Homo sapiens: one gene and its partners. The protein of the gene in region 4 interacts with the protein of the main gene of each other region in a biochemical or structural test. Each region holds a gene or a part of one and is shown on either strand. Other genes may lie near its edges.

The links.
Region 1: of the proteins of TRIM65 (region 4) and TNRC6A, one has a biochemical effect on the other in vitro, tested with the Homo sapiens proteins (one study listed by BioGRID).
Region 2: the proteins of TRIM65 (region 4) and BTG3 form a complex in vitro, tested with the Homo sapiens proteins (one study listed by BioGRID).
Region 3: the proteins of TRIM65 (region 4) and TBX19 form a complex in vitro, tested with the Homo sapiens proteins (one study listed by BioGRID).

Annotation. Positions count from the first base shown.
Region 1 is NC_000016.10:24,788,616-24,795,655, forward strand, and holds part of TNRC6A (trinucleotide repeat-containing gene 6A protein), read left to right. Parts: intron 1-616; coding exon 617-3,202; intron 3,203-4,857; coding exon 4,858-5,034; intron 5,035-5,928; coding exon 5,929-6,104; intron 6,105-7,040.
Region 2 is NC_000021.9:17,609,887-17,617,510, reverse strand, and holds the start of BTG3 (protein BTG3), read left to right. Parts: upstream 1-4,609; 5' UTR 4,610-4,812; exon of another isoform or gene 4,813-5,832; coding exon of another isoform or gene 5,833-5,854; exon of another isoform or gene 5,855-6,710; coding exon of another isoform or gene 6,711-6,735; intron 6,736-7,624. UniProt on the Homo sapiens protein: Overexpression impairs serum-induced cell cycle progression from the G0/G1 to S phase.
Region 3 is NC_000001.11:168,311,854-168,314,943, forward strand, and holds the end of TBX19 (T-box transcription factor TBX19), read left to right. Parts: intron 1-854; coding exon 855-1,149; 3' UTR 1,150-2,573; downstream 2,574-3,090. UniProt on the Homo sapiens protein: Transcriptional regulator involved in developmental processes. Can activate POMC gene expression and repress the alpha glycoprotein subunit and thyroid-stimulating hormone beta promoters.
Region 4 is NC_000017.11:75,888,423-75,893,951, reverse strand, and holds the end of TRIM65 (E3 ubiquitin-protein ligase TRIM65), read left to right. Parts: intron 1-1,101; coding exon 1,102-1,197; intron 1,198-1,412; coding exon of another isoform or gene 1,413-1,451; coding exon 1,452-1,685; intron 1,686-1,766; coding exon 1,767-1,941; coding exon of another isoform or gene 1,942-2,073; coding exon 2,074-2,139; intron 2,140-2,604; coding exon 2,605-3,173; 3' UTR 3,174-4,989; downstream 4,990-5,529. UniProt on the Homo sapiens protein: E3 ubiquitin ligase that plays a role in several processes including innate immnity, autophagy or inflammation.

The DNA of each region.
Region 1 (7,040 bases), on a different chromosome or scaffold from region 4:
GCTGCCTCCTAGACCTTCTTGACTCCAAAATTCTTTTTTTTTTTTTTTTTTGAGACGGAGTCTCGCTCTGTCACCCAGGCTGGAGTGCAGTGGCACTATCTCCGCTCACTGCAAGCTCCGCCTCCCGGGTTCATGCCATTCTCCTGCCTCAGCCTCCCGAGTAGCTGGGACTACAGGCGCCCACCACCATGCCCGGCTAATTTTTTGTATTTTTGGTAGAGATGGGGTTTCACCATGTTAGCCAGGATGTTCTTGATCTCCTGACCTCGTGATCCACCCACCTCGGCCTTCCAGAGTGCTGGGATTACAAGCGTGAGCCACCACGCCCGGCCCAAAATTCTTTTATTTACCGATATGTTAACAATGTATTCATTCAGCAAGTATTTATCAAGGGGCTGTTATGTCCTCTAGGATCTTAGGATAGTATCAGTTGAACATAGAAAGTTGGTGGCTAGAAGATAACCAGTGCCCTTGTCACCATTCTGCCAAGGATCATAGCTTGTTAAATTGAGGAGCCACATATATTTATAACATATTCGTCATTTTTCTTAGATTTTAGTATCATTTTGAAATGGCCTAACACTTTATAAATAGTTGTACTTCTCCTTTATCCTAGATATAAACCACAGTACTTCAGGATCCCATTATGAAAATTCCCAGCGGGGACCTGTGTCTTCTACAAGTGATTCTAGCACAAACTGTAAGAATGCTGTTGTAAGTGACTTGTCGGAAAAAGAAGCATGGCCCTCAGCCCCTGGCAGTGATCCGGAGTTGGCTTCAGAATGTATGGATGCTGATTCTGCCTCCAGTTCTGAATCAGAGAGAAACATCACTATCATGGCTTCAGGGAACACAGGTGGTGAAAAAGATGGCCTTCGGAATAGCACTGGACTTGGTTCCCAAAACAAGTTTGTAGTTGGTAGCAGCAGCAATAATGTGGGCCATGGAAGTAGTACTGGGCCATGGGGTTTTTCCCATGGAGCCATAATAAGCACATGTCAGGTCTCTGTGGATGCTCCTGAAAGCAAATCTGAAAGTAGCAACAATAGAATGAATGCTTGGGGCACTGTAAGTTCTTCATCAAATGGAGGGTTAAATCCAAGCACTTTGAATTCAGCTAGCAACCATGGTGCCTGGCCAGTATTAGAGAACAATGGACTTGCCCTAAAAGGGCCTGTAGGGAGTGGTAGTTCTGGCATTAATATTCAGTGCAGTACTATAGGCCAGATGCCTAACAATCAGAGTATTAACTCTAAAGTGAGTGGTGGTTCTACCCATGGTACCTGGGGAAGCCTTCAGGAAACTTGTGAATCTGAAGTAAGTGGTACACAGAAGGTTTCATTCAGTGGTCAACCTCAAAATATTACCACTGAAATGACTGGACCAAATAACACTACTAACTTTATGACCTCTAGTTTACCAAACTCCGGTTCAGTGCAGAATAATGAGCTGCCTAGTAGTAACACAGGGGCCTGGCGTGTGAGCACAATGAATCATCCTCAGATGCAGGCTCCATCAGGTATGAATGGCACTTCCCTTTCTCACCTTAGCAATGGAGAGTCAAAAAGTGGAGGCTCTTATGGTACTACATGGGGTGCCTATGGTTCTAATTACTCTGGAGACAAATGTTCAGGCCCTAATGGCCAAGCTAATGGTGACACTGTGAATGCAACTCTAATGCAGCCTGGCGTAAATGGTCCTATGGGCACTAACTTTCAAGTTAACACAAACAAAGGAGGTGGTGTGTGGGAATCTGGTGCAGCAAACTCCCAGAGTACATCATGGGGAAGTGGAAATGGCGCAAATTCTGGAGGAAGTCGAAGAGGATGGGGAACCCCTGCACAAAACACTGGCACTAATTTACCCAGCGTTGAGTGGAACAAACTGCCTAGCAATCAGCATTCCAATGATAGTGCAAATGGCAATGGTAAGACGTTTACAAATGGATGGAAATCTACTGAGGAAGAGGATCAGGGTTCTGCCACATCTCAGACAAATGAGCAAAGCAGTGTGTGGGCCAAAACAGGAGGTACAGTGGAGAGCGATGGTAGTACAGAAAGCACTGGACGCCTTGAGGAAAAAGGAACTGGGGAAAGTCAGAGTAGAGACAGAAGAAAAATTGATCAGCACACATTACTCCAAAGCATTGTAAACAGAACTGACTTAGATCCACGTGTCCTGTCCAACTCTGGTTGGGGACAGACTCCTATTAAGCAGAATACTGCCTGGGATACAGAAACATCACCTAGAGGGGAACGAAAGACTGACAATGGGACAGAGGCCTGGGGAAGCTCTGCAACACAGACTTTTAACTCAGGGGCATGTATAGATAAGACTAGCCCTAATGGTAATGATACCTCATCTGTATCAGGGTGGGGCGATCCCAAACCTGCTCTGAGGTGGGGAGATTCCAAAGGCTCAAACTGCCAGGGGGGGTGGGAAGATGATTCTGCTGCTACAGGAATGGTCAAGAGCAATCAGTGGGGGAATTGCAAAGAGGAGAAGGCTGCATGGAATGACTCGCAAAAGAATAAACAGGGATGGGGTGATGGACAAAAATCAAGCCAAGGGTGGTCTGTTTCTGCCAGTGATAACTGGGGAGAAACTTCAAGGAATAACCATTGGGGTGAGGCCAATAAGAAATCCAGCTCAGGAGGTAGTGACAGTGACAGGTCCGTTTCCGGTTGGAACGAACTTGGTAAAACTAGTTCTTTCACTTGGGGAAACAACATAAATCCAAATAATTCATCAGGATGGGATGAATCTTCTAAACCTACTCCTTCCCAGGGATGGGGAGACCCTCCAAAGTCTAATCAGTCTCTAGGTTGGGGAGATTCGTCAAAGCCAGTCAGCTCTCCAGACTGGAACAAGCAACAAGACATTGTTGGATCTTGGGGAATCCCACCAGCTACAGGCAAACCTCCTGGTACAGGCTGGCTGGGGGGACCTATACCAGCCCCAGCAAAAGAAGAAGAACCCACAGGCTGGGAGGAACCATCCCCAGAATCTATACGTCGCAAAATGGAGATTGATGATGGAACTTCAGCTTGGGGAGATCCAAGCAAATACAACTACAAAAATGTGAACATGTGGAACAAAAACGTCCCAAATGGCAACAGCCGTTCAGACCAGCAAGCACAGGTACATCAGCTGCTAACGCCTGCAAGTGCCATCTCAAACAAAGAGGCAAGCAGTGGCTCTGGTAAGTTTCTATTTTATGAAATCAAGCCTTGTTTTAACTTACTGTTATTATAAGATTTGTATAACAAAGTACTTGGATATGCACACAAAGGCTGTTCTTACTGTAATCCAGAAGCAGCTTGAAAAAAATTATAGGGGTGATGTTTACCACCAGAGAACAGAACTCCACTTTTGGCAGTGTTGTTTGAGTCCTGCACACTTCATTCTCTATTAGAAATGCAAGAGAAGGCGAATTGGACAAAGGCGGTCAAGTGGGAATGCTGTACACTTCTCCAAGTTGTTTTTGAGTTAGGCCTTAACTTGTGGTTTTATTATTTGACTAAAATATCTCCAGAAATAAAACAAGTATCTCATAAATACAGTACTCTCTAAACATTAGGTTGTATATTTGGCTTTAGAAGGGATTTTTTTTTTTAAGTAGGTGAGAAATCCAACTCTACTTAGATACAGTATATATGTTTGTGTATTTAAAACATTTGACAATACCTTTCTAGTATATCCTTACTTTCCTCTCTAATAATGAACTAATTCCTATCTCTGCAAATTTTCCCAACAACATTTTTGTTAAGTGTGATTGGCTACATTGTCTTTGTTAATAAAAGTTTTATTGACTTAATAGTCTCATTGGAAGTGGATATGGGAGTGCTTTCATGAGCTAACTTTTTGGCACTGAATTTTTTTTTTTTAGTCTAAGTATAGTTTGTTGTATTAATTTAGGTTTGATTCTTAAAAGGAAGAAGTATGTATCTAAGATGAAGCCTGTTGGCTTTGATTTTTTTTAATGAAACATTTATGGCTTTTTTTTTTTTTTTTTTTTTTTTTGCTTTGGACAACCTCAGCCTAATACTTCAGATTTTAAAATAAGCATTGTTCAGCATATGTAAAAAGTAGGTGACCCATTATTGTTAGCTGGGTAGTAAATTGTTTTTCCAGTGTAGGTGGTGTGGAAGGGGTACACTTGTGGCACAATTTTTTTTTTTTTTTTTTTTGGAGATGGAGGCTTTCTCCGTCACCCAGGCTGAAGTGCAGTGGCATGATCTCGGTTCACTGCAGCCTCCACCTCCCAGGTTCAAGCAATTCTCCTGTCTCAGCCTCCTGAGTAGCTGGGACTACAGGTGTGTGCCACCACGCCCAGCTAATCTTTGTATTTTTAGTAGAGACCAGGTTTTGCCATGTTGCCCAGGCTGGTCTCAAAATCCTGACCTCAGGTGATCCACCTGCCTCAGCCTCCCAAAGTGCTGGGATTACAGGCATCAGCCACTGTACCCAGCTGGTACAGATGTTATACATACACTGTCACCCAGCTTATCACCTGCTCCAATTTACAAGGTTTGGTTTAGAATGACTTGACTTTTTCAGGAATTAAACTGATGCTCAAAGGAGAGTGGTTTTCCATAACTATGCAAAAATCAGCTCTAGGTCTAGAGGGTAATTATGAAAAAAGTTAAAAAAATTCTCACCTTATATTAATGGGAAATAGTTTGTCTTTTTTTAACATAAAACAGATGCCATCTTTTTGCCTATCACAGTATCATTATTCAGTACATAAACATGAAGTTCTTCATCCTTGGTCCCTAAGTTTTCTTTATTGTCCCTTATTCCACTGCACCTCCTTACCTTCTATGCTGATGACTTCTTTTCCCACACTTTCTAAAGGCTGGGGTGAGCCCTGGGGGGAGCCTTCTACTCCAGCCACAACTGTGGATAATGGTACTTCAGCATGGGGTAAGCCCATAGACAGTGGTCCCAGCTGGGGGGAACCCATTGCTGCGGCATCCAGCACATCCACGTGGGGCTCCAGCTCTGTTGGTCCACAAGCATTAAGCAAATCTGGTAAGTTATTGACAATGCCTGGTAGCTGTTATGTAGCAGTGGCGAACACTCACTGACTATAATTAAATAATTAGATAAGGTTTCTATGTTATTTATAATATATTCATATAATGTAACATGATAGATGATGTTCAGTATTTTGCTCTTTGATTTTGTAACGTGGTTTATTCTCTTTCTGAATTTTCCTCTTTTCTCATATTTCTTAGAACTGTAACTATTCATTTGCATATACTTCATCAAATCTAAATTATATTTTACCAAATTAGGTTATCTAGGAAGAGTCTACTAGCAACTTTCATGCCATCCAGCCTGAGAGGCCAACTAGTGTAGCCATGAGGACACATATTCAGACTGTCAGATGATTCCCTGAAAGTTACAATTAGCATAGTTCAGAAAAGACCCAAGATTGAAATTAACATTGTCATTATCCCATAGGCTGTGTACAAGATGCCCGGTAGGAATCCCAAGGGCCATGTGTGAAGATAAGATGCTTTCTGCTTAAGGCTTTGAATACTCTCTGGCCATTCTCCCTAAAAATATATATAAAAATTAATTCTTTCAAATTTCATTCATCTTCTTTGTCCTGTGCATCACTATGCAGATTATTAAGTGGGTACAAACAAGAGTGCTACCATTGTCCATGTTCAAGAACTATGATTTGTTAAAGGCATGGAGGAGTTTTATTAAATTTTTAAATAAGAATATATTATTTTTCATGGAAGGTTTAGCTCAGTATAAAACATACTTTCCTTCTGTGCAGATGCAGGAAGGGAAATAAGTGTGCACGTGTGTGTTTTCTTAGGTTCTCTACCCAATTTTTAATATATACTTATTCTCCAGAAGGAATTCTTTTATTAAAGTATGTTTCTCTTTATATCACAAATCCACAATCAGGGCCAAAATCTATGCAAGATGGCTGGTGTGGTGATGATATGCCATTGCCTGGAAATCGCCCCACTGGCTGGGAAGAGGAAGAGGATGTGGAGATTGGAATGTGGAATAGTAATTCATCTCAAGAGCTTAACTCATCTTTAAATTGGCCACCATATACAAAGAAAATGTCATCGAAGGTAAACATTTCAAGGGCAAAGCCCTTGAAACTTTAAATTCCAAAGGTAGTTTACCCACAGAAAATTAACTTTTCGCCTGCCCATTTCTGGCGGTCAGTACAGTCCAGGCAGCCCCCACCTTAGGTATAGCCACTTGTATGGGCAGCCACCTAGAGAAACATAAGAAAGACCACAGGAACTTCCTTTCTCCCCACTGCTACAGCTTGGGATTTCTCTCTTCCTCCCCCTCCACCAGTGCTGCCTGGGACAACCCCTCATCCTAGGGTGGTGCCTGCAGTGGTGAGGATGAAGAGGAGGGCAAATCTCCATGTTGACTCTTTCCATCCCACTGCCAGTTCATCTCCCATTTCATTTCCTCACCTGGAGTCCCCCGCCACCCGCTTACCCAGAGTCACCATCCTCCTTATTCACCTGTCATGTTTGTCCCTATCCCATCCCAAAAGGTCCTGTGACAAAAATCCCTAGGAATGATCTGAGCTTGGTTTTGCTTTTATGTGTGGACAAATCATATTCCTAAAGCTGGCTGTACATCGAAATCCCATGGCATTTGTTAAAAATGCAGCTTCCTGTACCTCAGGTCTACTGAAGTTTTGGAAATTGGACCAAGTTTCTTATCCTAAAGAAACTCCTCAAATGTCTCTGATGCAGAGCCAGGTTTGGGAAGCACTGATTTAGAGCACTGGTTCTTAAGAGGTGGCACTGGGGGCTGCTGTCAGATCCTCCTGGGGACCATTTTCAAAATATGTGCCCAGTCCCCCAGGTGGTTCTAACATAACATCCTAACCCACCCTACTTGAGAATGATTACCTTTTGAGGGACCTTAGAAGTCAGATACCAGTGGATAGCTGGACTAGGTAACTGCCAAGGTTCCTCACTTTTAATCCTGGGATTCTAAGTCTAGGACCTGCCATTTTCATTTTTAAAATTTTTCATTTG
Region 2 (7,624 bases), on a different chromosome or scaffold from region 4:
AATATCTCCGAGGTATGCCGGAATACCTATATTCTTATTATATTCTTAATTTTGTTGCACTAAAATAAAGATAGGAGTTGTGCTCGCTTCGGCAGCACATATACTAAAATAAAGATAGGAGTTTATGCATTACTCACTAATAAAAGTCAGTTTCTCTGCTGGCATGGAGAATAGGAGAGTATTGCCAAACAACAACAACAACAACAACAATAATGGCACCTCTCCTGCCAAGCTGGGAAATTTTACTCCAGGGATTTCCAATATGAAGTTCTACCTAAGCATAGAGTGTCTGGCCCACTTGAGTGTCATAACTTATACATCACCCTAACCTAGTTCACATAAATCCTAACCAATTACCAAACAATAATATGAAAAGTTTGATCAAAGCATTTTCTTCTGAAAAAGATGAGCCAAGTTTGAGGCCTCTTTGAGGTAGGGAGGAAAGTTTCCACAGTTAATGCAACTCAAAATAGGAGGTTGGTGTGCCCAGTTTCCATTGCCTCATTCATCAAGAGAGTTTGTGTTTTGACTTTTGGAAGTCAGTTTTATGGCATGATGTAACGGAGAAAATAATGAAGATTGCAAATTTTCTTTATGCTTATACTTTAATCACTGCTGCTTTATGGATATTTAAGAAGCTAATGCAAGAGAAGTAGATTTAGTCTTTTTTAATTTAGTTACATGGCTAAGTTCTGGAAATTTTTGAAGAAATGTGTTGAAGTGTTCTTAAAATTATAGTCTCAGATCTTACTTGCTGGACCTCCAAAGGCCCCAGAAGGCTGCACACACTTTTCCTTGATGTTACATAGCATAATGTAACATATGCTATGTAACGTAACATCCTCTATGTTACATACCAGTTTCTCTACATAGCTAATGCAACTAACATAACACAAAATCCTCCATGTCCATTATAAAAGTGACTGTTTTGGCAGATCATGAGGTCAGGAGATCGAGACCATCCTAGGTAACACAGTGAAACCTTGTCTCTACTAAAAACACAAAAAATTAGCCGTGCATGGTGGTGGGCACCTGTAGTCCCAGCTACTCAGGAGGCTGAGGCAGGAGAATGGCGTGAACCTGGCAGGCGGAGCTTGCAGTGAGCCGAGATTGCACCACTGCACTCCAGCCTGGGCAACAGAGAAAGACTCTGTCTCAAAAAAAAAAAAAAAAAAGACTTTTGTATTCAGATTCAAACTTGACAAGTGAATTGAGAAGATGGTACCCAAGACTGTTTTTTTTTCCTTCTTTTCTTTTTTAGATAGTGTCTTGCTCTGTTGCTCAGGCTGGAGTGCAGAGCACGATGATCTCAGTTCACTGCAACCTCCACCTCCCAGGTTCAAGCCATTCTCCTGCCTCAGCCTCCTGAGCAGCTGGGATTACAGGAGCATGCCACCACACCTGGCTAATTTTTGTATTTTTAGTAGAGATGGGGTTTCACCATGTTGGCCAGGCTGGTCTCAAACTCCTGACCTCAGGTGATCCACCTGCCTCAGCCTCCCAAAGTTCTGGGATTACAGGCGTGAGCCACCACGACCCGCCGACTGTTTTGCTTTTAATGCTGAACTCTTGAGTTCAAAGGATTTTAAAGACTCACATATTTAGTGAAAATAAGTCCTAATTTTGAAAGCTATTTCACAGATTTTGTTGATTCTAAGTTGCATTCTCTGCAACTCTGAGACACAACCACAGGATGTGTGTGATGATTCCTGTGATTATAAAGCCCTAGACATATTAGAGTGGCTCATTTTCATAAGAAACCACTTGTGCTAAAAGCAAACTACACCATTAACACACAATAGAAGTGAATATCTTAAAGTTAGCTGTGAAATGGAAATACATATTAATGAGTATAGTAGTTCCCTCTTATCCCTGGTTTCATTTTCACCAGTTTTAGTTACCAGTGGTACAGTACAATAAGATATTTTGAGAGAGAGCGAGCATACATTCACATAACTTTTATTACAGTGTACTATAATAATTGTTCTGTTATTATAATTATTGTTAATCTCTTACTGTTCCTAATTTATAAATTATACATAGGGTTTGGTACCATGTGCAGTTTCAGACATCCACTGGGGATCCTGGAACATATCCTACCGTGGATAAGGGGGAACTACTGTAATTATTTACATCAGCTCTGCTCCTGTCTTATTCCAGGATGCTATAACAGAATACTATAGACTGTGTGGCTTAAACAACAGAAATTTCTCACAGTTTGGAGGTAGGGAAGTTAAAGATCAAGGTACCAGCAGATCCAGTGTCTGGTGAAGGTATGCTTTCTGGTTTGCTGTCTTCTCCCTATATCCTCACTTGGCAAGAGAGCAGACAGAGTGATCATCTCTCTCATGTTTCCACTTACAAGGGCACTAATTCCATTCATGAAGGTTCCACCCTCATGACCTAAGTGTCTCCCAAAGGCCCCACCTCCAAATACCATCACATTGGGGATTTAGTCTCCAACATACGAATATTGCGAGGGACACAAACATTTAGTTTATAGCAGCTCTCCTCTTTCAGTCCCATAAAGAGGAGGGCTCTGCCTTGCCATACCAATTCATTTGTGATTTTGTGATTCCAACTCACAAGGAAAGAGAGCTGGGGCAAAGCATCTGAAGCACACAAGAGTAGGGCAAGTTTTGAAAGAGACATAAAAACAAATACTGTGTGTGCAAGGGAAGTGGATGAGAGAAAAAGTGTTTAAGAGACATTGTTTGCTATGTGTCTATTTCACAGTGTTCAGCTATGAGAATTTTTTTTTCTTTTTTTAGACAGAGTCTTGCTCTGTCACCCAGGCTGGAGTGCCATGATGTTATCATAGCTCACTGCAGCCTCAATTTCCTGGGCTCAGGTGATCCTCTCACCCCAGCCTTCAGAGTATCTGAGACTACAGCTGCATGCAACCACACCTGGCTAATTTGTGTATTTTTTGTAGAGATTGGGTTTCATGATGTTGGCCAGGTTGGTCTTGAACTCCTGGAGTCAAATGATCCTCTCTCCTTGACCTCCCAAAGTACTGGATTACAGGCATGAGCTACAGTGCCCAGCCTGAGAATTTTTTAAAAGTCATTTTGAAATTGGGTTTCAGGTTCTTGCCTGTATTTTTTGAATATGGTACTGCTCTAAGACTGGAAAATGTGGACCACAGATTTATAAATACTACACAAAATACTAATCCTAAACTATAGAAATTTCTGGACAAATTTTGAGTAATGTGGGTGGTTACCTAGCTATTTTATGAAACTGCAGAATTAAAGGCCTTTATCTGTAAAAATAACCTCATCAGATTGTTATGATTTTAAAATAAAAACACCTTCACACCTCCTAGAAGACTCCAAGGTGTAAATATCCTCTTTAAATGTACCAGTAAGTAGACTAAGTCCTAGAAGAGTATAATTTTTTTTTTTTACAAATAAAGTTTATTGTACTGTTTGGGGGATGGTATATTTATTACTGCTAAAAAAATTACCATTTTGAATTGCTAATTGGCTATAACAAAGATCAGTAATACAAATTTAAAACATTCATAAAACTGAGCTGAAAACATGCTCCCAAGCCTAGTGGGCAGTAAGGAATCTGGCCAATATACTGTACAACTTGAACATTCAGTTCTTAAGTAGTTTACAACATGGTTTAGCCCTCTTTTAATAATAATAATAAAAAGGTAGGAATATCTTGTATTCCTCCCGCTAGTTGGATGTATTAAAGTGCTTTCACAAAACTAAGACCATGGTGTTAACTCAATATAAAAGGTTGAAAAGATGTTCCTTCTTTTCTTCAGAAAGTTAATGTTCCCTCTCCATATTTGTATTTGCTCAAAGATGAAGCTTTGCATCTGGGAAGTCCTTGAGTAGAGTGTCTCAGAAATAGAAAGCCTGGACTCTCAAGGCTTCATTCCTTTGGCCAACATCTTTGGAGCCTCTCCTTTATGCAAAACACAGTGGCCGGTGCCAGGGCAGCACACAAGCGTCCACAGGAGGCAGGCCCTGCTGTGAGGGGCCAGGGAAGGGCCCAACTAGGAGTGCCAACAACCGCCTAAAATACAGCAGGGCGGCTGCACGGTTAACGTGCGTGTAATTGACTACAGCAAGAAGGATGAGGATCTGTCCATAAATGCCAAGTTCCCCTTCCCGTCGAGTCCGTGTCCCCCATGAAGCCCCGGGTCTAGAGAGCTGGGTCTAGAACTCGCCATTCCGCCCTGAGGGTGTCAAGTGCAGCGTGGAGAGACCTGAGGGGGAAACAAAAAGGCCGAGACAGCCGAAAGGACCAAGCCCGCGCGACCCCCGAAGGCGCTGACGCACGTAGGGCGGCCGGGCGGGGGTCCCACAGGCCTTCAGCGCCGCTTTTTGCCGGGGAGGGAAGCCCGCGGTTCTGCGGACCGCGCCGTCGCGGTCGAGGGTCTGCGCCAGGCTCAGGGTAGGGCGAGGGTGTGTCGCCTCCCGTGCGGCTAGGCCCGGGGCTCGGGGGTGGCCTCGCGGCGAAGCCCCGCCCCCGGCACCGCCCCTCAGGCGCGCGAGCCGATCCCGCGCGCGCCAACCCTTTCCCGGGTCATCGCCCCTCCCCTCTTCCGGGCCGCGAGCCCCCTGCGCGCCGCTTTGGGGCTGCGCTCACTCGTGTGCGCGCTCGTCCGCCCGCCAGTCCTCTCAACGCGCGCTTGGCCGCCCGACGACGCGGGAGCCGCACGCGCCGGACGAGGCTCGCTGCGCTCCCTGTTGCCCAGCGCGGGCCCGTTGAGGCGGAGCCCTCAGTTCCCGGCCAGGACACGGTCTGGGCCGCCGAATCTCCGGCCGAAGAGCGGCGGCGGCAGCGGCGGTGAGGAGACCGGGCCGGGGAAAGGCAGACATGGCGGGGCTGTGGGTATCGGGGGAGGGTGGTCCCGTCGCCCCTGCGGCCACGTCGAAGGCTCGCTGGCGGGCGGCGCACCGGGGACAGGGGAGGGGCAGGGGATGGAACCAGGTTGCATGGGCTCCGGCTCGGCGCCAGAGCGGGGCTGCGGGCCGCGAGGGCGGCCCGCGAGGCTTTCCGCGGGACCCTCGGCGGGCGCCTGAGGAAAAAGACGCCGCCTCAGGGCTCCTGCCACGTTTCCCACAGCGCGTTACATTCCGCCTCCGGGTGGGCGACAACCCCGCGGCTTCCCACCCTCTGTCCACCCCCTTCGCGTCGGTGTTTTTTCTGGAGCTCCGCTTGTTTGCTGGAGAGTCGCGCCTCCGGGAAGCCGGGTCCTCGAACCCAGGGCCGCCCGCCGGGGACAGCGGACCCGCGGGGCAGGCGCACCCTGGCGAGGATGTTGTCGGGGAGGCTGGGCATTGGGCGCCAGGGCCCTTCCCCTTGAACTTGGGGAAAACCGGGATTGCAGAAGTTGGGCGCAGCTCAAGGCGGTTCTTTCAAGAGCGGGTGGAGATGTTTGATCCCTCCTCACCTACCTCTCTCAAAACCCCAGCGGGAGAGCCTAGCAGCAGGTTTCGATGGCTTCAGAAAGTCCAACTCTTAGCCCCTTGGAAAATTATTTCCCCTCTTCATGGCTTTGTGGCGCCGCTGAGGTCGGGCCGGGGCTCCTCACCCCACGGGCCAGTCTTCTCGCGCCCTCCACCTTGGGAACGTCTATCAGGAGAAAAATGTGTTCCTAGAAACGTTTGCGATTAGCTTTTCGTTACAAGGGAGGGAAAAGTACAAAAGTTATAAACTCCTGCGAGGCCGAGCTTGATTCTGGATTCCCTTTGGGTTTTATCCACGCAGCCGTGAGCAGAGGAGCCTTGTGGAACAAAGTAGAACTTGAGGAGCAGCCGCCGCGGTGACGAGGTCCCAGGATGACGTCACCGTGCGATATTTAAAATGGGAGCCTTTTGCTCTGAGTGTGGGTGGAGGACGCCTACTTACTCAAGACGCCTGAGGTCTTCTTGGCCCTGCTTGCCTCTGGTGGTTCTTGCCCTGACTGTAACTCTCCCTCTTTCACCTTTTGGTACTCCTAGAATACTGGTGGGAGTGGGCTTATTTTTCAGCTGTTCGAGCTATCATTTCTTCAAACGGGGAAAACAAAAGTCCAAATGAGTCATCTTGTGTTACAACCAAAAGCAACCACTAAGTGGTTCTTTCCTTCTTTTCTATTTTTTTATATGAAGCAGAGCAAACAGAAACAAATCCAGAACTCAGATATGTGGCACATAGTTGGCAAATGTAATGAATGAGGAGAAAGATCTAGTTAAAAGATTCAGTACATTTCTTTAGTGTGGTTCCTTGTTTGCTTTGCTGGAGTGGAGGCTAATGTAGTTCCATCAGCAAAACTTTCTTCCCAACCCGTATATTAAATTGCCTTGGGTTTTCTTTTCCATCGTATCGTGGTGGAATATAAACGTAGCTTTACAAAGTGGAAATGGCTTACATTTTTCAGGAGGAGGCTGCACAGCAGTCGTGGTGGGCTGGGGTTATGTATACGTGTACACTCGTGTGTGGACCCATGCCCGGTGCCTGCTAGCTGGCTGTAGAAGGTGAATTTCTCATTCTAGGGTTCTGGGAGGAAGATTTGTGTGCCTTCCCCTCCATCAGGCTATCTGCGGCTGCCAGCACACCTCTCAGATAACTGTGTAGAATTTATTTCACAGTGAGGTTCCTTGTTTGAATTTGCACTTGGAATAAAGGAGTCATATTCTGAAGAGAGACTGAAAGAGCAGTTTGAGAAAAGAAAGCTAACAATCAGCTTTATTTTTTTGGAAATGTGGGAACACAAACTACTGCTAGGTTAGTTGTTTTTATGCTAAACATAGCAGAGGCTGTATGTTTTTAATACGTAATTGGCTCCCAAAAAGGTGATGTTGCTTACTAAAGGCAGCATCTTAATAACTCCAGGTTACAGCAGCCAGATGAATGAGCTCACTGAGTAGAGACAACATACATCAAAACAATCTTAGGACAAGGGTTTGCCCTTAAGGATTAATCAATGATAAATCAGATATACCATTTTTAAAGTCCTTTGAGGCAATCCAAAATGTAGCTAAATCTCTGATTATTTCTTTTAGTTTGTTTTTCTGCGGGTGACCTGAATTTCCATTTCTTAAATATGTCCTGATAGATCCACTAGTTTTTGTGTCTCTTAACTTGTGGATAAATGTATCTCTCTTCCTGAAAGAGTACTTTCGGAAAGTCAATGCTGAAATTTTTTATGTAGAACAGTTTTGGGATTTAATTTATATACCATGCAATTCACCCATTTAAAATGTACAGTTCAATGGTTTTAGTATATTCACAAAGTTGTACAACCATTACTATAGTGAAATTTAGTAAATATTTTTATCACCTCAAAAAGTAACCCTGTACTTATTAGCAATGCTCCTTTTCTTGGTTTCCCACTTCCCCGTAGGCCACTAATCTGTCTTCTGTCTATATAGATTTGCTTATTCTGGATATTTCATATCAATGGAATCGTACAATATGTGGTCATTTGTGACTGGCTTCTTTCCCTTAGTGTGATGTATTCAAGGTTCACCCATGTTGTAGCTTATATTAGTACTCATTCGTTTTAACTGCTGAATAATATTCCATTACATGTATATACCACAGTATTTGTCCATTCCTTAATTGGTAAACATATAGATTGTTTTTACTTTTTAGCTATTATGAATACTGCTGT
Region 3 (3,090 bases), on a different chromosome or scaffold from region 4:
TCGTACTCAGGCTGCATGCCAGATCAGTTCAATCAGAATCTCTGGGGCAGGGGAGTGGGGTGAGAGTGGGATCCAGGCACCAATATTACTTTAAAAACCCCCCCTAGTGATTCCAATGTGCCGAATGTGCAATCAAGTGTGTGAACCTGTGCTACAGAACTAGAGAAGGCAAAGAAAATGTTGTAGCTCCCAGCCTTTCAGCCAGGCACCAGAGCTCACAGGCGGAGACCAGGAATGGAAGAATTAATGTTAACAACCACCATTTACTGAGTACTACATGCTAAGGACCATATACTCCTCTTATTTAATCCTTGTAGCAATCTCTGTAAGGTAGGTAAAATTATGAATCCACATCTTGAAGATGAGAAATTGACACTCAGAGATATTAAATAATCTAGCCAAGGCCACAGAGCTAATTAAGTGGTAGAGCTGGGATTTAAACTTAAGTCTTCTGACAGTGATGTTTCCTGGTTATTATGCCACATTGGCCAGGGAGAGATCATATGCAGAAATCATACAGTTTTAATACCTTTTTTTCTACTGCCCTGCCAATTTTACATAGGCTGCAAGGGAGCCCAGATAAATGAAATTCTGTGTCTAAAACCAAATAATTCGCTGGTGGCCGGGCCAGTACCAGAATACTTAATCTTATCATTATTCCACCATACTTTGCTGCTTCTCTTAGCTTTTCTGCAGAAACAGGACCAATCTGCGTCATAGCTAGAAATAAAGCCATGGCCAGAAGCCCTCCTGTAACCATGCCCTTCTCAGCACTGTGTACATGCTTGTCAGGTGGCACTCCTTCCTTGGAGTGCCAGTGAACATTCCCTTCCCCTCTTTCTCTGTCTCTGCAGCCCCTACCCGTGCCTGTGGACCATCAGCAATGGTGCCGGAGGCCCCAGTGGGCCAGGCCCGGAGGTGCACGCCAGCACCCCAGGAGCATTTCTCCTCGGAAACCCAGCTGTGACTTCACCCCCTTCTGTGCTCTCCACCCAAGCACCCACTTCGGCTGGTGTGGAGGTTCTGGGGGAGCCCTCGCTAACCAGCATTGCTGTGTCCACCTGGACAGCAGTGGCCTCGCATCCCTTCGCGGGCTGGGGTGGCCCAGGAGCGGGTGGGCACCATTCTCCTTCCTCACTGGATGGTTAAGCAGGATCCTAGGAGCCTCTTTGCACAGCGATCCTTCCATGTGTAGAGTGCTTAGAAACCCCATCAACTGATCTAGTGAGTCAGACTGTGGAATCTCCCTTCCCACTAGCTGGAGGTGGAGGTGGGTTATTACAGAAGTCATACTGGGAGAGGGTTCAGTTTGGATGATGCTAGTTAGATCATTTGCATCTCTCCACCATTTTCTTCTGCACTCCCATTTTCTCTGCAGCTTATTCTTGCCATGCTTAGGTGACAGAAGTTTGTTAAGTACCATCCTTGTGCCCTGCCTCTTATTCTCAAATCGTTCTGGAAAGCCTCACTTCCTTTTCTGTGGAGAAGGTGCAAAGCTGTTAAATGAGCTCAGAGTTTACCTAGCTAAGGCCACTGCTTCCTGCTTTGTGAAGCCTGGAAAGTATGTGTGGCCACAGGGCTCAGGTTCACACTTCTGCTTTGAGACCAGGATGGGGTGTAAGCCATAGAGTAAGGTTAACAAAAAGAATAAAGCTAATCATGTATTACAAACAGCAGTGTGCCCAGACTTGTGGAAATGAAGTCATGTCACTCCTCTGCTCAGAAACCTTCAATGGTTCACCATTACCAGTGGAATGAAGTCAATTCTCCTCACTATAACTGGGTGTGGTAGTTTAAGCCTATAATCTCAGCCCTTTTGGAGGCCAAGGTAAGAGGATCGCTTGAGGTCAGGAGTTCGAGACCAGCTTGTGCAACAAAGTGAGAGCCTGTCTCTACAAAAAATAGTCATGCACACAAAATTAGCTGGGCATGGTGGCCTGTGCCTATAGTCCCAACTACTTAGAGGAGGATCGCTTGATCTCAGGAGGTTGAGGCTGCAGTGAATTATGATTGTGGCATTGCACTCCAGCCTGGGTGGTAGATCAAGGCTTTGTTTCATTTGAAAAAAAAGAAAGAAAGAAAGAAAGAAAGAAATCCTACTACGAGCGATCACACCATCTGGCCTGAAACCACTTCCCCAGCTTAGGTCCCTCTGTTATCCTGTTGGCCTCCTATGTATTGGTCAAGGCAGGCATCTCTGTTCTCTGAACATTCATTGCACTTTCCCACCTCTATACCTTGCCTGTGCCTTAGTGTCCTCTTTTTTCCAGTTCACCTGTGCGAATCCGACCCACCTCCCAGAGCCTGGCTGAAACGTCACTCCCTGCATCCAACATCTGATCTGCTGAGATATGTCTGATCTATCTCTGCTCGCTGTTCTCCCGTTGTTTTTGCCTCTGCCATAGAGCTCACCTCATTTTGCCTTGTATTTTTGTTACCTGTGAGTGTGTCTCTCCCTATTAGACTGTAAGCCTCTCGAGGGTGAGGCCTAGCCTTCTTGTCTTTGTAACCCACAGCAGCTGGTACTGTGCCTTGCCTATTGTAGGTGCCCAATAAACATTTGCTGAACTGAATTGGTGTAATGTGCATGTGTGCTACAAGGACGGTGTGAAGTGGCTGGGGGGCAGATCTCAGAGACACATGCCCCATGACACATAGGTGCATCCGTGTGGGAGCCTAGGAACATGCTGGCTGTTAGTTACACGGGCTTCTCATCTGAGGCACCACCAATTGTCAGTGAATGACAATCATATATGGAGACAGGGTGTGTTAGAGTGGTTATTCCCAAATACTGGTTCTTGGATCCCCTAAGTCAGGATCACCTGGAACAGGGGACCCTTGCTAGACATACAGATTCGTGGGTATACCCCGTACCTGTTGGATCAGAATCTTTGGGGCTGGCGTTCAGGAATCTGCATTTCAAACAAGAGCTCCAGGCATTGGCCCTGGGCTAGGTTTGGAAACTCCTTGCCTAGAAGAGAGAAACAGGATGATAAATACTCCAGGAACCTTATTTCAGATGAGTTTTTACCTCTGCCCCAGCCAAGGTCATTGCTATAACCCGTGAGCAGAATCAGTTTCGTGAGTCTT
Region 4 (5,529 bases):
ACTGCTCATGGGCGGGTGCAGAAGACTGAGCTAGGCACGGAAGTTTGAGTTGGAGGCCGGTAGATGAGGGCCATGTGGAGGAAGGGAGCGACAGGGGCAGCCAGTAGCACCAGGGGAGCCAGGATTTTGCAAGAGAGAGGGAAAGGGACATGGGGGTGCCTGTCCCTGGGGGAGGGTTGGGTGCCCTGGGAGAGCCTGCCCTCCGGCCTCCTGTGTTCCTGTGTGAAATGCTGGAGGCTGGGGGCCCGGAGGAGCTCTGGGCTTAGGAAGATCTGAGGACTTTGACCAAATTATCAACTTCTCTGAGCCCGTTTCCTCCTCTGTGATGTGGGGATAGTAATGGTCCCCATCTCAGTGCATTGCGGGAGGAGCAGAAACAAGGTGGTGAAGCTTTTGACCAGGTGCTGGGAATGGAGCCCCTGGGACCTGCGTGGTTTGTCCTGCTCTCATGAGAGCACGGTGTTTTGATTCCCAAGGGACTCAGGGAGCGCAACCGAATAGGGGTCCCTTCCTCCCCTCTCAGTCTCAAAACTAGGGCCAGGGACTGGCCGGATCCCCAGAAGAATCTAGTTTATCCAGCAAGTAACTGCCCACTTGTCAGACAGCTTTGGTGCTTTGGGAGGTCCCTGCAGTCAGCTTCTCAAGCCCCAGGGCCTCCTGGGCCACTGACCCCTCTGCAGTGAGACAGGGACCAACGGCTTTAGTGTTTGGGGTCCTCCCTGCGAGGCCTCCTGAGCCAGCATTATCGCTTTCCTGTATTGATGGGTGGGGGGTTAGGCCCAGAGAGGACAGGTGCTTGGCCTCAGCTTGCTCAGCATGCAAGAGGTAGAAATGGGAATGGAAGTTGGGTCCTGAGCCCAAGGCTTCCGCTCTGCTCAGGCACCACCCTGCTGCAGATTAGGAAGGACTTTGTCTGGACCCCCCCGGGGCACGGCCCCAACTCTCCCTGGGTTAGACCGAGGCCGGTGCTCTGGAGGCTGGCCTGGGGTGGCGTGGGGAGGGGCTGCCTGGTGTCTGCAGGCATGGTTGGTTGTCTGAGAAAGGACATCACAGCCAATCCTGGCCTTCTCTTGTTGCTTGTCCCGTGGGCCCGCACCACAGGCCCAGCTGAGAGCCAGCCTGGAGGTTACCCAGCAGCAGGCCACCCAGGCCGAAGGCCAGCTACTAGAGCTGCGCAAGCAAAGCAGCCAGATCCAGGTACGAGGCCTGTGCCTGCCCGCCCACCATGGCCTCACACTGCATCCTGGGGCGGCCACCAGCTGGTCCCTGGAACACCAGGCAGCAGGGAGCGGGGCTGAGCAGGGAGCTGGGCACAGGGGTCCTGGGGAGGTTCCCGGGACCCTGCCTCCCCACATCCCTGACCCTCAGCCCAGCAGGCAGCCCTGGCCCTAGCCTCCCTTGGTATGGCACAGGGCCCTGGCCACCCTGAAGCCCCTCCTGTTCCCGCCCAGAACTCGGCCTGCATCTTGGCCTCCTGGGTCTCCGGCAAGTTCAGCAGCCTGCTACAGGCCCTGGAAATACAGCACACGACAGCACTGAGGAGCATCGAGGTGGCCAAGACGCAGGCGCTGGCACAGGCTCGAGACGAGGAGCAGCGGCTGCGGGTCCATTTGGAGGCTGTGGCTCGCCATGGCTGCAGGATCCGGGAGCTCCTGGAGCAGGTGGATGAGCAGACCTTCCTGCAGGTGCGAGGGCTCAGGGCATAGGTGGCGGACTTGCTTCCCTGCCCCTCAGGCCCAGGCTTACTTGTTCTCCCTGGGGCTCAGGAATCGCAGCTCCTCCAGCCCCCAGGGCCTCTTGGGCCACTGACCCCTCTGCAGTGGGATGAAGACCAACAGCTGGGTGACCTGAAGCAGTTGCTAAGCCGGCTGTGTGGCCTCCTCTTGGAAGAGGGGAGCCACCCTGGGGCACCAGCCAAGCCTGTGGACTTAGCCCCCGTGGGTAAGACTGACCCCAGGCCTCCCCCTGCTGTCCTGGGTCCAGCTGCCCCTCCCGCTGGGGGGGTGGAGGCGGGTCAGGGCCCACACATCGTGACCTCTCCAACCATTCCCTTAACACTGCTTTGCCCCCTAGAGGCCCCAGGTCCCCTGGCACCGGTCCCAAGCACAGTTTGTCCACTGAGGAGGAAACTCTGGCAGAGTAAGGAGGCCGTTCGTGTATGTGTGCCCCTGTGTGTGCGTGTGCAAGGAAGTGCCTGTGTGTGCTGTGAGCACGTGTGTGTGTGCATGTTCGTATGCACGTGTGAGTGAGGGGGGCACTTGTTTTGACTGTCCTGCCGGGACATCTGAGCCTGGTCCCACCCGCTGCACACCTCGTGCACATCCACCCTGAAGCAGACGCAGCCAGTGTGCGTTGAAGGACAGAGTCTGGGGCACAGACCCGTAATTCTTCCACTTAACACTGAGTTAATGGCTCTCAGAGCCCCAGTTTTCTCAGCTGTGAACGGGGCTGATAGAGGATTCCGCCTGCGAGGTCGTGGCGAGGATTAAGTGCTATGGTGACGGCCGGTGCTCAGCGTGCCTGGCGGAGGTTTAGCAGCGGATAAATGGAGATCTGGTTGTGCTGTCTTCCCCCAGCCCACTGCTGTCCTCCTTTCCCCAACAGATTATCGCAATCTGACCTTTGATCCAGTCAGCGCCAACCGTCACTTCTATCTGTCGCGCCAGGACCAGCAGGTGAAGCACTGTCGTCAGTCCCGGGGCCCAGGCGGGCCCGGCAGCTTTGAGCTCTGGCAGGTGCAATGTGCCCAGAGCTTCCAGGCCGGGCACCACTACTGGGAGGTGCGCGCGTCAGACCACTCGGTGACACTGGGCGTCTCCTACCCGCAACTGCCACGGTGCAGGCTGGGGCCCCACACAGACAACATTGGCCGGGGACCCTGCTCCTGGGGGCTCTGCGTCCAGGAGGACAGCCTCCAGGCCTGGCACAACGGGGAAGCCCAGCGCCTCCCAGGGGTGTCAGGGCGGCTCCTGGGCATGGATTTGGACCTGGCCTCAGGCTGCCTCACCTTCTACAGCCTGGAGCCCCAGACCCAGCCCCTGTACACCTTCCATGCCCTCTTCAACCAGCCCCTCACCCCCGTCTTCTGGCTCCTCGAGGGTAGGACCCTGACCCTGTGCCATCAGCCAGGGGCTGTGTTCCCTCTGGGGCCCCAGGAAGAGGTGCTCAGCTGAAGAAGGCATGGGATGGAGCCCTGGCATAGCTGCCACCATGCCTATGTGCCCAAGAGCTGCCCAGCTTCAGCTTGGGGACTGGAGGACCAGCTGTTGGCCTCTCTGTTAACTCAGAAAGAGATGGGAGGTTGGGGGAGGTGAGCATAAACGCAGAGTTCACTGTTGCAGCCTTTTTGAAGGGGACACAGTCTAGGAGGGGGATAAATGGGATGCCCTTGCCCCAGAGAGAACCCAGTTCTAGGTACTGTCTGGGCCTGGGAGGCGAGAGCAGTGCCCAGGGGACTTCTGGGCTTACAGGACAGCGTGTGTGACAAAATTCAGATCTACCTGAACTTGCCTCTGGAGATGATAAGGGCCAAAGGAGCAGTCAGGGAGGGGCGGTGAGCCAGAGTAGTCCCAGGGGGAGACAGATTCCTCCCTCCTCCCCGCCTGCAGCTCTCTTTAATTTTTTGTAACATTTGGAGAGACGTCCGTCCTGTCTTGTAGTCTTTTTATTTTGTGCATCCTTATAATTGTATTCTACAAACAATTTTGTTTTCTGCATTTAAACATTTTTGTGTTTTTAGGAGATGGTCTTGCTCTGTCACTCAGGCTGGAGTACAGTGGCACAATCATGGCTCACTGCAGCCTCGAGCTCCTGAGCTCAAAGGATCCTCCCACCTCAGCCTCCAGAGTAGCTCAGATTACAGTGTTTTCTGAAGTTTCCTGACTTAACATAAGCATTTTTCACATGATTGAAAATTTTCACTGATTGCTGTAGTCATTCTAATGACTATCAAGTTTATTTATCCATTATTGGACATTTAAATTTCTTTCTTTTTAGCTATACAAACATTGATGTGTTTTTTTTGAGACAGGATCTCCATCTGTCACCCAGGCTGGTGTGCAGGGGTGCGGTCATGGGCTCATGGGATTCTCCTACCTCAGCCTCCTGAGTAGCTGGGATTACAGGTGTATGCCACCACGCCTGGCTTATGATGAATATTTCTGAGTGGGATGTTTGGCCACATTTATGGTCATGTATGTAGGCTGTTACCTCAAGTGAGTCACTCAGGGAACAATGAGCACTTGAAGATTTTTTTATACAAAAGGCCACAGTGAGGCCACCTTGAGTCAAGCCGACTAAGGCCCCTCAACCCTGTCACTAAGCAGCACGTGACACTGGCAGGACCTTCATCTCCAGCATCCCACCCCTGGGTGTGGGACTTTGGGGCAGCCGTGTGTGCAGGTGTCGGCACAGGCTAGCTCCTCCTGGTTTGGTGTGGTGTTTGCCATTGCAGAGCAAGCTGCCACGAAGACCCCTGGGCATGATTTTGCTTGTATTTCCGGAAGTGGGGTTGCTGGGTCATAGGGCAGGTGTAATTTTTTTTACTTGAAATGTTCCACTTCTTGTTCTGGGAGGTGGTTCCAAGGGTGTCTGCTTTTGGCCAGGCGCAGTGGCTCACGCTTGTAATCCCAGCACTTTGGGAGGCCGAGGCAGGCGGATCACAAGGTCAGGAGTTCGAGACCAGCCTGGCCAACAAGGCAAAACCCCGTCTCTACTAAAAATACAAAAATTAGCCGGGCATGGTGGTGTGCGCCTGTAATCCCAGCTACTGGGGAGGCTGAGGCAGAAGAATCGCTTGAACCCAGGAGGTGAGGTTGCAGTGAGCTGAGATTGCACCACTGGACTACAGCCTGGGTGACAGAGCGAGACTCTGTCTCAAAAAAAAAAAAAAAAAGGGAGGGCTGTCTGCTTTTTGTAACTTGAAAAACTGGACATCTATGTTATATGTACTCATGGATAAATATTTCACAATAAAACTTTTTAAAAGGATAATACGTGTAATATACATACCCCCAATATATATAATGTTTTTATATTTGTAAAAAAAAAAAACCTCCCACGACGACCCCACCCCGATCACTGCCGTCATTGCAGCCTCCATCTTGTGGCCCTGCTCCTAGCCTGTGGCTGTTTGTTCAAGAGCAGGGCAGGGCCTTGGATTGGCACAGCCCAGGCAAGGACTTTCCAGCAAGATCCTCAGGTGGGAGCTCCCCAGACATGGGAAGGGAATCTGACATGTGCAGCCCCACAGCCAGGAGGCGGGCAGGACCTTGCTGACCAGCTAGGGGCAATGGTGGGAGCTGAAAGCCCAGCCAGGCAGGATGTATTGGCCTGGCCAGATGGCTGTCATTGCTGTCCCCACCTCATAGTCCCTCCTAATCCAAGGCTGCAGCAGAAGCACCCAACGGGCTGAGCCGCGCTCTGAAAGGGGCAGAGAGAGGAAGAGTTGGCCCCTTTCTGCTTCTGAGGTGGGAGGTGTTTGGGGTCATTTATTATGTGAAATTCATCTTCCTATTGGGTGGTGGTTCT